Linked DNA regions of Homo sapiens. The protein of the gene in region 3 purifies or fractionates together with the protein of the main gene of each other region. This does not show direct contact. Each region holds a gene or a part of one and is shown on either strand. Other genes may lie near its edges.

Region 1 (3,500 bases), on a different chromosome or scaffold from region 3:
CCCTAGAGGTTCAGTGTTCTGCATTGCGAGACTAGCCCTAGGTTTAGAAACCTAGTGACATAGGCTTGCTGTACAGAACAGTATGCAGTGTGTCAGCTGACACTGGTGTTGGTTTCACGATCCGAAGGAAATGGAATATAATTGCCGTCCTTGTCACACCTTGAGCATTATGGTAAGCAGGTGCTTTCTGGTGCAACTGTTTGTGGTTGAACAGTGTTTATGACTAATATCTGCCATCGTTTTTAAGAGTGTTTTTAAAGGAAAGGGCAACTCTTGTCTGGCCTATTTTTCTATCTTCCTATTAAAACCTGTGGTATGACGTGGACAGAATGTAACTCTAGATGTTTACAATTAACTGTTTTCATTGTAATCTGTTTCTTGCTACTCAAACTGTGTAACCGTGGGATTTCTTATGTAGGATATCTATAATATTTGTGCTGAGTCATTTTGAGTTAAGTGAATGGGGTAAAGTTCTATTTTTAGCCCGTCAAGGCCTAGTGAGGGCACTGGCTTAGCAGAACTCTCCATCACGCGCATCTGTTTGGGTTATGCCCACCAATAAGGACTTGATTCCAGTTTAAATAGGACTTTGGTCACTGAATAAATCTAAAGTTTCTGAGAAATACATTGACTTTTTTTGTCCACTGTAAAAAAATTTTTTTTTCTTCCTGTGAGAAATTGAGACTCTTAAAAGTTAAAGTCTACTAATGAAAGATTATTTGCTTGTGCCTGTTTTCTACATTCATTTTTCTTTAAAGGTTGACTCTTATTTTTACCCTCCCAAATCCAGACTCTTCTATGTACTCTCCTTAAATTTTAAACTCCCAAGCTTTGTATAGAAGTCGATAATCTGGTCCAGATGCTGAAAAGAAGACAAAGCTTTCACATTTGCAATATTGGCTTCATTTTCTGGACTTCTGTTGTTTTAATCATGAGTGTTCATGTTTCTTTAAAACAGAAAAAAAAAAAATCACCTTGTTTTCTTCAGGGTGTGAGCTCCTAGAGAACTAAGATGAGGTTTTGTGATTTTCCTTTGTTTTAAGTCTGGTATAAGATCTCGCTCACATAAATATTTAATACTCTTTTTGATGGTGACTGACTTTTGGTCGTATGATGGACATTTAGGCCCTTAAATCTGCCCCATGAGCAAGATGACACACCTTTGGAAAAACAGAAGCTATTCTGGGAGGTACATGAATATGTTCACATTTTATCACTAAGTTTCATTTAATATGCCTTATTAGTAATAAGCATGTATACCAATTTGTATCTACAAACCTATAATTTTTAAACTGTAGTATTCACGTAAATATTGGTAAGATATTTATTTTGGAATGTGGATGATTTGTAAAACCTGTGTATTAAAACAAAAGTATACAAATACCTGATTTGTACATACCTGGCTGTAACCTAATGTGTCTTTTTGTTGTCATGCAGAGCTCTGGTATCGAGACTTTAGTGGAGGAGCTCTGCTCCAGACTGAAAGACCTTCAGAGTAAGCAAGGTGAGGTCAAAAGCACTGTGCGCACACATGCCAGGATTACATCCCTGAGGAATCTGGATTGGGGAAAATCTTAGAATTGATCAGAAAAGAAAACAACCAGAACAAAGTCTTTGTGTCCAGTGTGTGTCACTAGGCCAGCCTCATGCTCCATCTGCAGCTCTGTTAGTGGCTTCTGTGTCAGACCCAGCAGTCACTCATAGAGATTCCTGCAACCAAGGGAGGGACTTAGTCCACAGGTGCCCTCAGAGATAGGAAACACTTCATGGTTTTCTGTTTTTTGGGTTTTTTTAATTGTTGTTGGCTTCAAGTTGAAGCTCAGAGATCAGGAACAATATTGTCTCTTTCCTTTCCCCATCCTTGCCCCTCTGTTAATATCTGCCTGTTGATGTTAAGACTGCTAAATTACGACATTAAATTAAGATGTTAAGACATGAATTACTTCAGGTTTGGAAGGGACTTCTGTTTTGACTCAGCTTTTTTGAAAACACAGACTTGGCAAGCTTATTTAGTTATTTCGATATATGAATCCTCCTCATACTTTTTCTAACTTGTTTGCAATCCCTAAGAACGAGACCTTCATATTAAGGGTGAGGATCCTTGTTTCCTTGCCCTCTTTATGGTCATTTTGCTGCCCACCAAGCCTTGAGCCTGCCTCTTAAGGGCACAGTTGATTTGTAACCTAAGGCAGTATCCTAGGCTAAACTAAGGGATAGCCCTTTTTCCTGTTTCAGTTGAAATAGCCCTTGCTCACCTACATGTTAAGTAATAGAGCAAATTGTAATAAAGAATATTCTTTACAGATTAGTTTTGGTCAAGATGAGTCAATGTAAAGTCTATGAGTGTAGAATTTTGTGAGAAAATAGTTTTGGAATCTAAACAGATGTTCTGTCCTTCTGGTCTAATTAATAAGTACACAGGGGACTTCAGTCTCTTAATTAAGTGCCTCTAGAGCACTGTATCAGTGACGAGATGAACAACTCTCACCTCTTGGCCTAATGCTAATGTGGTTTAATCGGAGAATTCCCTCTGGCACACTGAAAAAATAGATTTTTATTAAAAAGATCGGTATTGAGTTTGCCTTTTAAGCACCAAAGTCTCTATTTCTTGTTAAAATTAGTTGAGAAACTTTGAAATACATTAGCATTTATTAACTAGATATAAGACAAATCTTTCTTAATTTTTGTTTCATAACAGAAGAGAAGATTCACAAAAAGTTAGAGGGGTCTCCCTCTCCAGAGGCAGAATTATCCCCTCCAGCAAAGGATCAAGTGGAAATGTATGTAAGATTGTATTCGGTAATAAAGTGTGCATTTGTTAAAATCAGATGAATAACTGCTACATGGTTTCCGTTTTCTGTTTGTCATCTTGTTTAGTTTCATTATATATAATGTAAGAAACATTTATCGAGCGCTTATATGCTTGACACTGAGAATTCAAAGGTGAAACAAGATGGTTCTGTCCTTGGTGTTCATATTCAATATTTGTGGAACAAATGAGTGAAACATAGAAGGTTATTATTTGCTAAGTCTATGTATGTACTATTACCTTTAATATTCACAACAGCCCTTTGAGACAGCTGTGAGAAATTAGGATTATCAGCCGGGCACAGTGGCTCATGTCAGTAATCCCAGCACTTTGGGAAGCCAAGGCAGGTGGATCACCTGAGGTCAGGAGTTTGAGACCAGCCTGGTCAACATGGTGAAACCCAGTCTCAAATATTAGTTGAGCATGGTGGTACATGCCTGTAATCCCAGCTACTCAGGAGACCGAGGCAGGAGAATTTCTGGAACCCGGGAGGCAGAGGTTGCAGTGAGCTGAGACTGTGCCATTGCACTCCAGCCTGGACGACAGAGCGAGACTCTGTCTTATTAAAAAAAAAAAAAAAAAAAAAAACAAGAAAGAAAAGAAATGATTATCCATGTTCACAAGCAAGAACACTGAGTTCCCACTGTTTACTGCAGAGGGAACATAGGCAATCCTTGACCTGCCAAACCTG
Region 2 (2,969 bases), on a different chromosome or scaffold from region 3:
GTGCTTTTAAATGTCCTTTGCCTGCATGAGGTGGAAAGGGGACCTTTTTGAGTTGTCATTTTGCACTTTCAAAACTTATTTTCTTGGAAAACAATATTTATAGGGCTTAAAGCCCATTTTCATTTCTAATCTAAATTATGTGTGCCTATCTGAAAACTTTGGGCTCTTTCTTGTTTCTTTCCCAAAATTCAGAAGTTAATGGGCTTTTATGTTTTTCTATATTTTTTTTATTTCAATGATTTGGCCTGTCTATGTTAGGCTAAAAAATAACCTTGTGTATGCTACCAACTTAAAGTGCATTATTTTGTGTCACTTTTTTTTTTCTTGTAAAAATGACTTGGATTGAAAATATGTGGTAGCCTTTTTATTTCTACATTAAGTTCTACCTAGGATATTTCCAAGGACTGCCACAAAACCCATATGTGCAGTACTTTACTACTTTGGGAAAGCTGCATCTTTCTACCACATTTTAACATCTAATATATTTAATTTCTTTGAAGAGGGTTCTGTGTACGTTATTGTAGTTCCCAGTTTAATATAGTTCTTTGTATCTCTTAACAGGTTGAAGTTATTGCAAAACACTCTGGAAAGTAATAATTACATCATAATCATTTATTTTTTAAACTTAAAAGCCTAGAAATTTCCTAGAAAGAAAATAGGAGACATCTCAGAGCAATTTGGTTTTGGTGTATATGTTCTCAACAGAAAACCAGTGTTAATGAATATCATGCCTCAGCACTGTCACTTTTAAAACCTGTCAGGATCCCACTGTAAAATTGGAAATGGGCAGTTCTGAATTTTCACGTTTGAAATGTAAAATATAAACTTCAGTCAATATCCAGGTTTATTGTGTCCTACTATTTAATAATGAGAGAAGTAATGGCAAGGCCTTTACTTTCAGGAAAGGATAGAAGTATAGATTAATGACTGGAAAGTTTTAATATATTTAGCCCAAAGGTTACTTTGAATTGAAGTCTTTGCATTGACTGTTTGTGTTTGGTTTATTTGTTTAGCTTTACAAGGTACACATAAGTTAGGTTGAGGGGTTGTTAACCCTTCCGTGGTCTGCTTTCATTCCGTGTGCTTCCTGTCACAGGTAATGGAAAACATAAGTAGAATAGGTGACCTCTTAGTTTTGAACTTATTTAAGTGTGGGGATGAATTTTTCATCAGAAGTGCTTACAGGGTTACTACCTCAGTTTACAATCTACCTGGTCATTATTTTATTTCTATCCAGTTCTAAGAACTGCCTCCACTGTTTATATATTCATAATTAAACACATTGAGAATGCAACACTATAAAAGCTGGTCAAATTTTTGCAGAGCCCTTATTCTGTGTGTTTTTTGTTTTTTTCTTTTTTTTTTGAGACAGAGTCTCGTTCGGTCCCCCAGCTTGGAGTGCAGTGGCGCGATCTCGGCTCACTGCAACCTCCGCCTCCTGGGTTCACGCGATTCTCCTGCCTCAGCCTCCCGAGTAGCTGGGATTACAGGCACACACCACCACGCCCGGCTAATTTTTTGTGTCTTTTTAGTAGAGACGGGGTTTCGCTATGTTGGCCAGACTGGTCTTGAACTGCTGACCTCGTGATCCGCCCGCCTCGGCCTCTCAAAGTGCTGGGATTCTGTGTGTTTTGTGCACCTCCACTTTAGGTAATCATAGGGAGCACATTTACAGGATGGTCTAATAACATGAAAACAGGCTAGTTTCAAGCAACAGCAATGTCGGTTGGAAAGCAGGCGTCATTTGCCTTGAAAAAAGCCTTTTGACAACATACAGGCATTCTTTTAAAACCAGGCTGAAACATTTTATTTCCGAGACTTAACGTTGTGTTTCCTGTTTCTTAAACCTAGCACCTCTGTGTATTTGAAAATAATGAGACATCTTTCATTGGATTTTGGAAAATTGTTCCCCATGGGATTCTAACCTCACTACCAAATGAGTGAAAGCTTGATTAAGAGTTCTTCCATATACTAGCCTCCTTGGAAGAAGTGATCAGAAGGTGATAAGAAGGACAGAAAGGACTATTTTAAAGTTGGACTGAAGGAGAAAAAAGCAAAATTCTTGTTTCATCCCAATTCTAGTTAGAACAAAGTTAAACCCCCGTAATCTTAAAGAGAAAATCTTTGGAGGTTTTAATTAAACATTTTATACATTTAAAGTCTTGTTAATGGTGCTTTAAGTGTCAATGTAGCATGTAAAAGGCTTTGTACAGACAGGTAAAAGTTCCATTTCTGAGTGATGAAATGTAACACTTCTTCATCTTTAACTTGAAATCAAAACTATCAGATTTTATTTTTGTATAATTTAAGGAAGGTAAAGTTAGGGGACTAGAAGACTCTAAATTGGCTTCTACAGATCAATAATTTAAATGTAACTAGTTGGGATTTTATAGTTAAAATTATATTTGTGTATATAACATAACTAATCTGTAAATTGTAATAAATATATTTGCAATTATTAAATGTTAAGTGATATTTTGGTTCAACTTTATATTATATGTATCATAGTATTTTACAATGGTTTTGGAATTACTAAGCAGGATTAGTATAATTGCAAACAACATTTTAGTAATAGAAGAACTTGGTTCTTGCAGTATTATGAGAGGCCCTTCTAAGAAACTGAAGATTTGATTCTGAAATTGGCCCTAGCTTTTCAGTTTTGCTGCAAAGAAAATTAAACTGGGTATTCACAGAAGCAATAACATTCAGATGCTGGGCTTAGCCTAGTGCTTAAGTAGCAGGGAAATCTCTGTTTTGTGCATTATTATTATTATTATTTTTTGAGACGGAGCCTCTGTCACCCAGGCTGCATTGAAGTGGCACGATCTCAGCTCACTGCAACCTCCACCTTCCGGTTTCAAGCGATTCTCCTGCCTCAGCCTCCCGAGTAGCTGGGATCACAGGCACCTGCCACCATGCCCGGCTAAATTTTGTATTTTTAGTAGAGATGGGGTTTCATCATGTTGGCC
Region 3 (3,683 bases):
ATCAAATATTTACTAAGCCCTTACTATTTGCCTGGCATTGTATCCTGGGTGCTAGAATTACGTAGAGACGAATAAGACAGCCAGGCTTGTAGCCTGGATAAGGCAACCGGGATGGAGGCAATCCCAGTTCTTGATCTTAGGACTTTTATTTTTCATTTATTCATAATAGACTCCCGAAATCCCCTTCTGGTTGAGCTGCCCCAGTCCTTGCCCACTGAAAACCCACAAGGCTATTAGGGGGAGACAAAACTGTAAACCGAAAATTCCAAAGCAGCATGCGAACCGCAACAATGGTGGCCCCTAGATGTAGGAAGGAAATGAGGAGGGACTGAGGAACTGGAGCAGGGGAGTTCCGCGGCGGCTGGGTGGGTGAAGGCACCTGAAAGGGACGATGCGTGGGCTGAATTACAGAAAATAAACAGGAATTCCTATATAAAGAAAAAGCAGAGAAAAGGCATTTCAGATCACAGGAAGCATCACATGCAAAGCCAAAGAAACAGGAAATTGCTAGTTCCAGCTTCTGCCATTAACTGGCTCTTTTTAACCTTTCTGGAATTTCCTCAGGTCCCTCTGGGATTTCAGTCTTCACATCTCAGAAAATGAAGGTCGGGGGTGGAAAGAAGGAATCTATATTTCGGGAAGGTGCTTTCTAACTGGATACCTCCGTGCTAGAGCAAAAAAAAAGGGGTAGTTTTAAAAACGTCAAGTGTTATTTTAGGGCAGGAGCCAGAAGCCCCATGTTTTGTAACTATCAAGATGACAGGCAGAGCCTGCAGCCATTCAGAGGCTTTCTCCACTTGATCTTAGCCAAAAGACCAAGAAGCGATCAGAAATTTTCTCAACGATTAATTTACCCACTTCACCAGTACTTAGGGCATGGACTGAGCCAGGGCCTATGCTATCAAAAAGAGCACAGTCTAGCAGAGGGAGACAGACAGTAAATAAGTATATAAATAACTGGAAACCATATTGGTCTGCACGCTGCGAGTGCGTGGGGACAGGAAAACAGAAGCTCCCAGGACGTGCAGGTCACGTCCAGGTTACATGCAGGGTGAGTGACGGTTTATCTCCTAGCCAAATTAACTTCCTGTTTCCTCGTCCAGCCTCACCTTCTCCAAGAAGCCAGAAACATTTTCAGCCGCCAATTTTTCCTTGGCAGGACGACAGGGTGCCCTCTCTTCACCTGCAACCTTTCCCAGGCCTTGCCTGGGGCTCCACGCACTCACTGCAAATGCGGGTCCCAGAGCTGACCACAAGGTGCCTGCTCCCGCGACAGCTTCGCGCAGACCTGAGCGCCCAGTGCATGCAGACCTCCCGGCGTCGTGGGAGAGGGTGGCGGGAAGGCGGGCTGTGCAGCACCTCCGGGTTGGGCCGCTGGCGGCTGGGCGGGACTCAGCCTACGGTATAAGAGGGGAGCGCCACTCTCCTGGCCGCAGTACTGAAGGTGGCGCCTCGGCAGCGGGCTAGAGGCCACTGGCACTGAGCTTGCAACCAGATCCAGAGACACTGAAGAAGAGAGAAAGGTCTGAAGCGGGGCTGATTTGTTGTGGGTGCAGGGGAGAGGAAGGCTGGAACTGGTCTGGGGTCTTAAACACGTGGGGGACGTTTACAGGGTCTGGGGGAGGGATCCAGCCGCGTCGAGGGGCTGCAGCAGCTCCAGGCGCCCAAACTCAGCAGCTTCTCTCCCCCGCAGGCGCACCTCTTCCCGCCACTCCTAGCCCCAGCCTCCAAGGATGCGGCTCCTCGAGAAACTCTGTTCCTCGGCCGCAGGCAGCTCCGCGCCGAAGCCCGCCTTCGCCAAAGTGCTCACGCCGAATCGCATCCCCGAATTCTGCATCCCGCCGCGGCTGCCGGCCCCTTGCACGCTCGAGTCTCCAATCCGGGCCGCCGCCGTGCCCCGGCGCTGCGCCGCTGAAAGCGACCTGTGGCCCCGCGCGGCAGACGAGGACGCCGGCCGCACGGACTGGGACCCGCGCTCGCAGGCAGCGCTGTCACTGCCGCACCTGCCCCGTGTGCGCACCACCTACGGCTTCTGCGCGCTGCTCGAGAGCCCGCACACGCGCCGCAAGGAGTCGCTCCTGCTCGGGGGCCCGCCCGCGCCCCGGCCCCGGGCCCACAGCTGCGGCGGCGGCGGAGGCCCGGACGCCCCCCTGGGGACCCTGTGCGGCCCGCGAGGTCCGGGCCCGGCCACCCCCGCGGCCCCCGGCGGTCCCCGCCTGCCCCAGGACGCGCTCGCTGCGGGGCCCCGCCGCTGCCGCCTCCTGCGCGTCCCCGACGGGCTGCTGAGTCGCGCGCTGCGGGCTGGAAGGAGTCGCCGCCTGGCCCGCGTCCGCTCCGTCTCCAGCGGGAACGAGGACGAGGAGCGCCGCGCGGGATCCGAGTCCCCGGCCCGGGCCCCCTCCTCGAGCCCGCTGTCATCCAGGGCCCCGCTTCCTGAGCGCCTGGAGGCCAAGGGCACCGTGGCTCTGGGCCGCGCCGGCGACGCCCTGCGCCTGGCTGCTGAGTACTGTCCGGGAACCCGGCGTCTCCGCCTCCGGCTGCTCCGCGCGGAGAGCCTGTTCGGAGGCGCCCCCGGGCCCCGCGCCGTCCGCTGCCGCCTCAGCCTCGTCCTGCGGCCGCCGGGCACTGCGCGTTGGCAATGCAGCGCTGTGGTGGGGCGCAGCCGCAAGGCCTCCTTTGACCAGGACTTTTGCTTCGACGGCCTCTCGGAAGACGAGGTGCGCCGCCTGGCCGTTCGCGTCAAGGCCCGGGATGAGGGTCGCGGCCGGGATCGGGGCCGCCTGCTGGGCCAGGGTGAGCTGTCCCTGGGCGCCCTCCTGCTGCTCTGAGGGCCCAGCCCTCCCCGGGGCGCTCTGCCCTGGAGACTCCGGACACTGACAGCCGCGTGGTACAGAATAAACGTTATTTATTTTTTTATTTATGATACTGCTTTATTGACGTTTTACTTCCTCACCATCCACATTTGTCATCGTCTATTGGTAAAGAAGAAAAAGATAATGACTCCCTGTTCTGTTCACAGGACCCCCATATCTCTTTCCAGACCATTTTTGCATTCCAAGGAAAAATGGGTTGGCTTGGGACTGGGAGAGAAAGGAAGTACACCCATCTGCATTGTTTTTAATTCCTTCCGGTTTTCTATCAATGTTACAGTTTTTTTTTAATAAAGCAAGTTATTCATTCAGAGTCATGCCCAACGTTACGATTCATATACACAGCTTTACATATTGATGCGGCATAGGTAATATCCTAATTTGTGTTTGCGCACGCGCACACATCAGAGTGAGACACTTGTATTATAAGGATGTATATACCCTGGTGGGAAGAAAATTTTTTTGTAGAAAGTTTTCTTTTGGAAGTGAGTTTTTCAAAAATTGGTGAGGAAAACAGGGAAGTGGAGGACCTTCCAATAGATGGGTTATCTAGGGAATAGCTATTCCTGGGGTCTCTCTCTTCCTTACCTAGGAAATCTTAGAAATCTTTCTTGCCTCTGTAAACAAGATGATACTTTTTGTGGCATTTTCTCACCTAGCTATGTATCTAATTACACACTAATTAGCTTTGCGGTAGGATTTCCTAGATGAGTTAAAAAGTAAGTAGTCAGTTTCTTGAACACTGGGTTCTAGAGAGTGTTTTTAAAAATCCAATTGATTTTCATTTGTTAATTCAACAAATAAACCTAAGTC
Region 4 (3,500 bases), on a different chromosome or scaffold from region 3:
CTTTGCTTTTAGTAAAGAAAGGACATTCTTTCCTTTACCTTTGATGGGTGTTTTTTTCTACTGGAAAATAAAACGTAGAGTAGGTTGTAAATTTTACTCCCTGTCTTGTGATTCCCAGATTTTGTCTTCTCTAAAATCTGCCTTTATTAATGATAATAGCTAACAATTATATACAATGTGCCATGAAGTGTTTTAAGTATTTTCCATTTATTAACTCAAATCCTATTCGGTAGGCATTATTGTTCTCATTTTATAGAAGAATAAACTGAGGTGCAGAGAGGTTCAATAGCTTGCCTGGGGTTGTAAAGCTAGTAAATGGCATAGATAGGATTCAAATGCAGGCAGTCAAGTGCCAAGGTGCATGTTCTGTAACCATTGCATGCTCTGCCTTTGTGTTGGCATTGGCTCTGGCACTGCATACACCAGAGCAGAGACTGATCTTCCATTTGCAGTTTGAACACGGGTCACCTTCCTCAAGGACTCCTGTCAAGGGGACTCTATATTGACTTTGTTCTTTGCTTTACAGCCTAACATAGCAAATTTCTTGAGTACCCTCCCGATTTGGCTAACAAAATCCCCTCAAAATAGAAAAGATAGGAAGAGAGGGAATGAAAATGAAATATATTTTTAAAATACCTTTGGTAGTGTTCAGAAGTCTCACCAATTTAAGCAGACCAGATTAATGTTGGCAGAAAACAGCTTTATCAGGTTACCAAAGCAAGCATAGGTACCCTACAGAGCCAAGGCTGTCCCAGAGAGGTAGTCTCTGTGATTGCTGTTCCCTGCCCCCAAGGTCTCTGGTATTTATTCATCCATGGAAAGAAAAATCTGCATGCCCTTCTGAGTCCCACAGTAAGATCCATCCTAACAGAGCAGAAGGGCAGGATGGGGAGGCACACCAGGAATGCCTCTGAAAAATAAATGTCTCAAAGATTGATGGCTTGATGATCTCTTTGGAGATTATATCAAAAATTATTGATTATGTTAGTAAGTCGTAGAAAATAGGCTCTGAGGTTGGGAACTAAGTGCTTTCTTTAAAATAATCTAGAAGCAGTAGAATAAATCAATGTGCAGAGCATCTAAAATACTGTATCATATTGGCTTCACAAATAGCTTGGCTTCAATGTGGAAAGGGCAATATTATTTTTAAAAAAAACTTCAACAGTTGTCTTGGCATGCTAAAAAGAAAAGAAGACAAAATTCAATTCTATTATTTGCTTTGCAAAATTTTACAACATTCCTAGCTTCTAGCATTCATTTATTTCCTAATCAGTGGGAAAACTGCAAGGCTTTTTAAAATAATTTGTGCCAGATAGGGCTTTTTTTTTTTCCTTTGCCACAATAAAGATACAAAAGCCTTAAAAGATATTTTGTTTTCAACAACTGAATTTGACAAACTTAGTCCTGCTCAGTTTTTTGGTGGTAGGTCTGAATTTCAGTATGTGATAATACTACTCCATTTATGCTTGTTTTGAAATATTTTCTATTTGCATTTAAGACCACCGATTCCGGTTTTTAAGAAAACAATTCCAGCAATGTATCTTGCTGAAAGAAAAACTCACTATGCAAAAGCACCAATTTTTGAATAGTTAAATTGAATGATACATTTTCATATTATGATAGCATTCTTTGCCTTGAAAGATTCACAGAAAGATTTGTAAAAAGTAACTATCCCCTTAGGGCACTTTAATGTTTATTTATAAACAGTTAACTACTTAGAGGAAGAAATAACACCAGGGAGAGTAATATGGTGTCAGAAAAGGAAGATGACTCCAAAATAATGATAAACCACAGCTCTAAAATTTTAATGTAACTTAATGAAAACTAATTCAATTGAAGCGTGTTTCAGTTTGGTATTAGCTCTGAACCTGGGAAACTTGAGTCCTGGCATTAGGGGAATCTCTTCATTTTATGGACCCTGGTTTCTTCATCTGTAAACTCAGGAGATTGGAACAGATGATCTTTAAGGCTCCTTTGAACCTGTATAATTTCTTGATTCAGTTTCCTGAAGTAAGATGTGCTTTTTGTTGGGGAATAGGAAACGGAGCATATTAAAGGCATCTGGGCCTCTGGTTACATTAGTACTTAGGGTTCTGTTCAACAAACCAGTGTTGTTTGCTTCCTGTGTGGTGGGTGCTGTACTGGATGCTGGGAATAGAGTGATGTACTTCCCATCAGGTTTCCTTAAGTAGAAGTTCAAAGTGTGAATGAGGGGGCAGACTCAGAAAAGTTCAGTTGAACTGTATTTTTCATGGGGGAAGTTTTCCTCTCTGATGACCATGGAGTCTAGACTCCTTGGGCTAAGGATCGGCAAAATTACTGTTACAGGAAGTCTTCTCAGCACAGGATAGTGAGTGGGAAATAAGGCAGAAACTTTATTTGTATTTCTCTGGAGCATTCTGGGAGTGATCCCAGTATTTCACCTTGAGAGAGTGTAACCTAACCTTCACATTCCCTTACGAGAGACTCGCTTACTTTACCGTGTTCACATGTCCACAGTGAGCCTAAAAATGTCTCCACTGCTTTGGAGCCTTTTGAGATGATGAAATAGAGACTCCTGAGGCATACAAAATACTATTAAAGCTTCTGCTAGTGTACTTCTGTGATCACTACAGAGAGGTTCTTTTGCTCCCATATTTCAGTTGACTGTGCTCTACAAAGTAGACACCCCAATCACACTGTGGGCTTCGCCACTCTGCTAGGTAGGACATTTGAACCTACTGCATCCAGAAAACCCCAAATGTATCATTTTCTTAATAAAGTTTCCTTTGAAATGACCAGCAGCCCAGTGATGTCTTTCTAGGAACTTACTGAGCAGGGTCACCAGCGGCCATCTGACTTGGTCCCTGCCCTAGTTACCAGAGCTGCTGTCCACAGGCTGCCTGTTCCACTTACTTAGCATATGCAATGTCTCTAAAGAACTGCATGTGAAATTAACTTCCTTTATAGACGCTTACTCCCTTTTTCAGCTTTTCATTTTTGCTGTCTATTAATGCCTGTAAAGTCCCTAAATTAAACTTGACTTTTTCTATCTGTAACTCCATGTTTTCTACGGGATACTTCAGCAAATGATAGCAGCAAGATATCTTACATTCCCAGGCAGAACCAGCATTTGCATGCTCAGGGTTTCACTTCAGGAGAGTCTCCTGTAAGGTGGAGCTGAAAAAAAAAAAAAAAGAAAAGCCTTGTGGGGTATGGAGAGAGCCTGAGCTCTAATCTAGAGTCTGCTAGACTCTATCAATGACTATTAAATTTAGACAGTTTCCACAGTTTCATGACTATGTGGGTTAAAAGGTAAAAACTTTTTCCTATTTTAGCCAGTAAAATTAATCAAGGAGAGGGGAGAAAGGAGGTATTCAACAAGAAAAAGTTAAGTCTATTTAGACTTAACTAATAAAGTCGAGATAGGAAAATGAGGTTTTATATTATCATTAACAAAAAGGTTATAATAATATGTGCCTTGCTAACCTTGGATATGAAAGGGTTTTATAAACCATACA

What was found.
Region 1: the proteins of C2CD4B (region 3) and KIAA0232 purify together in Homo sapiens (affinity purification with mass spectrometry; one large-scale study listed by BioGRID and IntAct). This does not show direct contact.
Region 2: the proteins of C2CD4B (region 3) and PPP1R15B purify together in Homo sapiens (affinity purification with mass spectrometry; one large-scale study listed by BioGRID and IntAct). This does not show direct contact.
Region 4: the proteins of C2CD4B (region 3) and FAT3 purify together in Homo sapiens (affinity purification with mass spectrometry; one large-scale study listed by BioGRID and IntAct). This does not show direct contact.

Annotation. Positions count from the first base shown.
Region 1 is NC_000004.12:6,855,727-6,859,226, forward strand, and holds part of KIAA0232 (uncharacterized protein KIAA0232), read left to right. Parts: intron 1-74; exon of another isoform or gene 75-130; coding exon of another isoform or gene 131-172; intron 173-1,437; coding exon 1,438-1,504; intron 1,505-2,698; coding exon 2,699-2,780; intron 2,781-3,500.
Region 2 is NC_000001.11:204,402,881-204,405,849, reverse strand, and holds the end of PPP1R15B (protein phosphatase 1 regulatory subunit 15B), read left to right. Parts: 3' UTR 1-2,469; downstream 2,470-2,969. UniProt on the Homo sapiens protein: Maintains low levels of EIF2S1 phosphorylation in unstressed cells by promoting its dephosphorylation by PP1.
Region 3 is NC_000015.10:62,163,035-62,166,717, reverse strand, and holds C2CD4B (C2 calcium-dependent domain-containing protein 4B), read left to right. Parts: upstream 1-1,432; 5' UTR 1,433-1,523; intron 1,524-1,693; 5' UTR 1,694-1,733; coding exon 1,734-2,828; 3' UTR 2,829-3,183; downstream 3,184-3,683.
Region 4 is NC_000011.10:92,346,818-92,350,317, forward strand, and holds part of FAT3 (protocadherin Fat 3 isoform 1 precursor), read left to right. Parts: intron 1-3,500.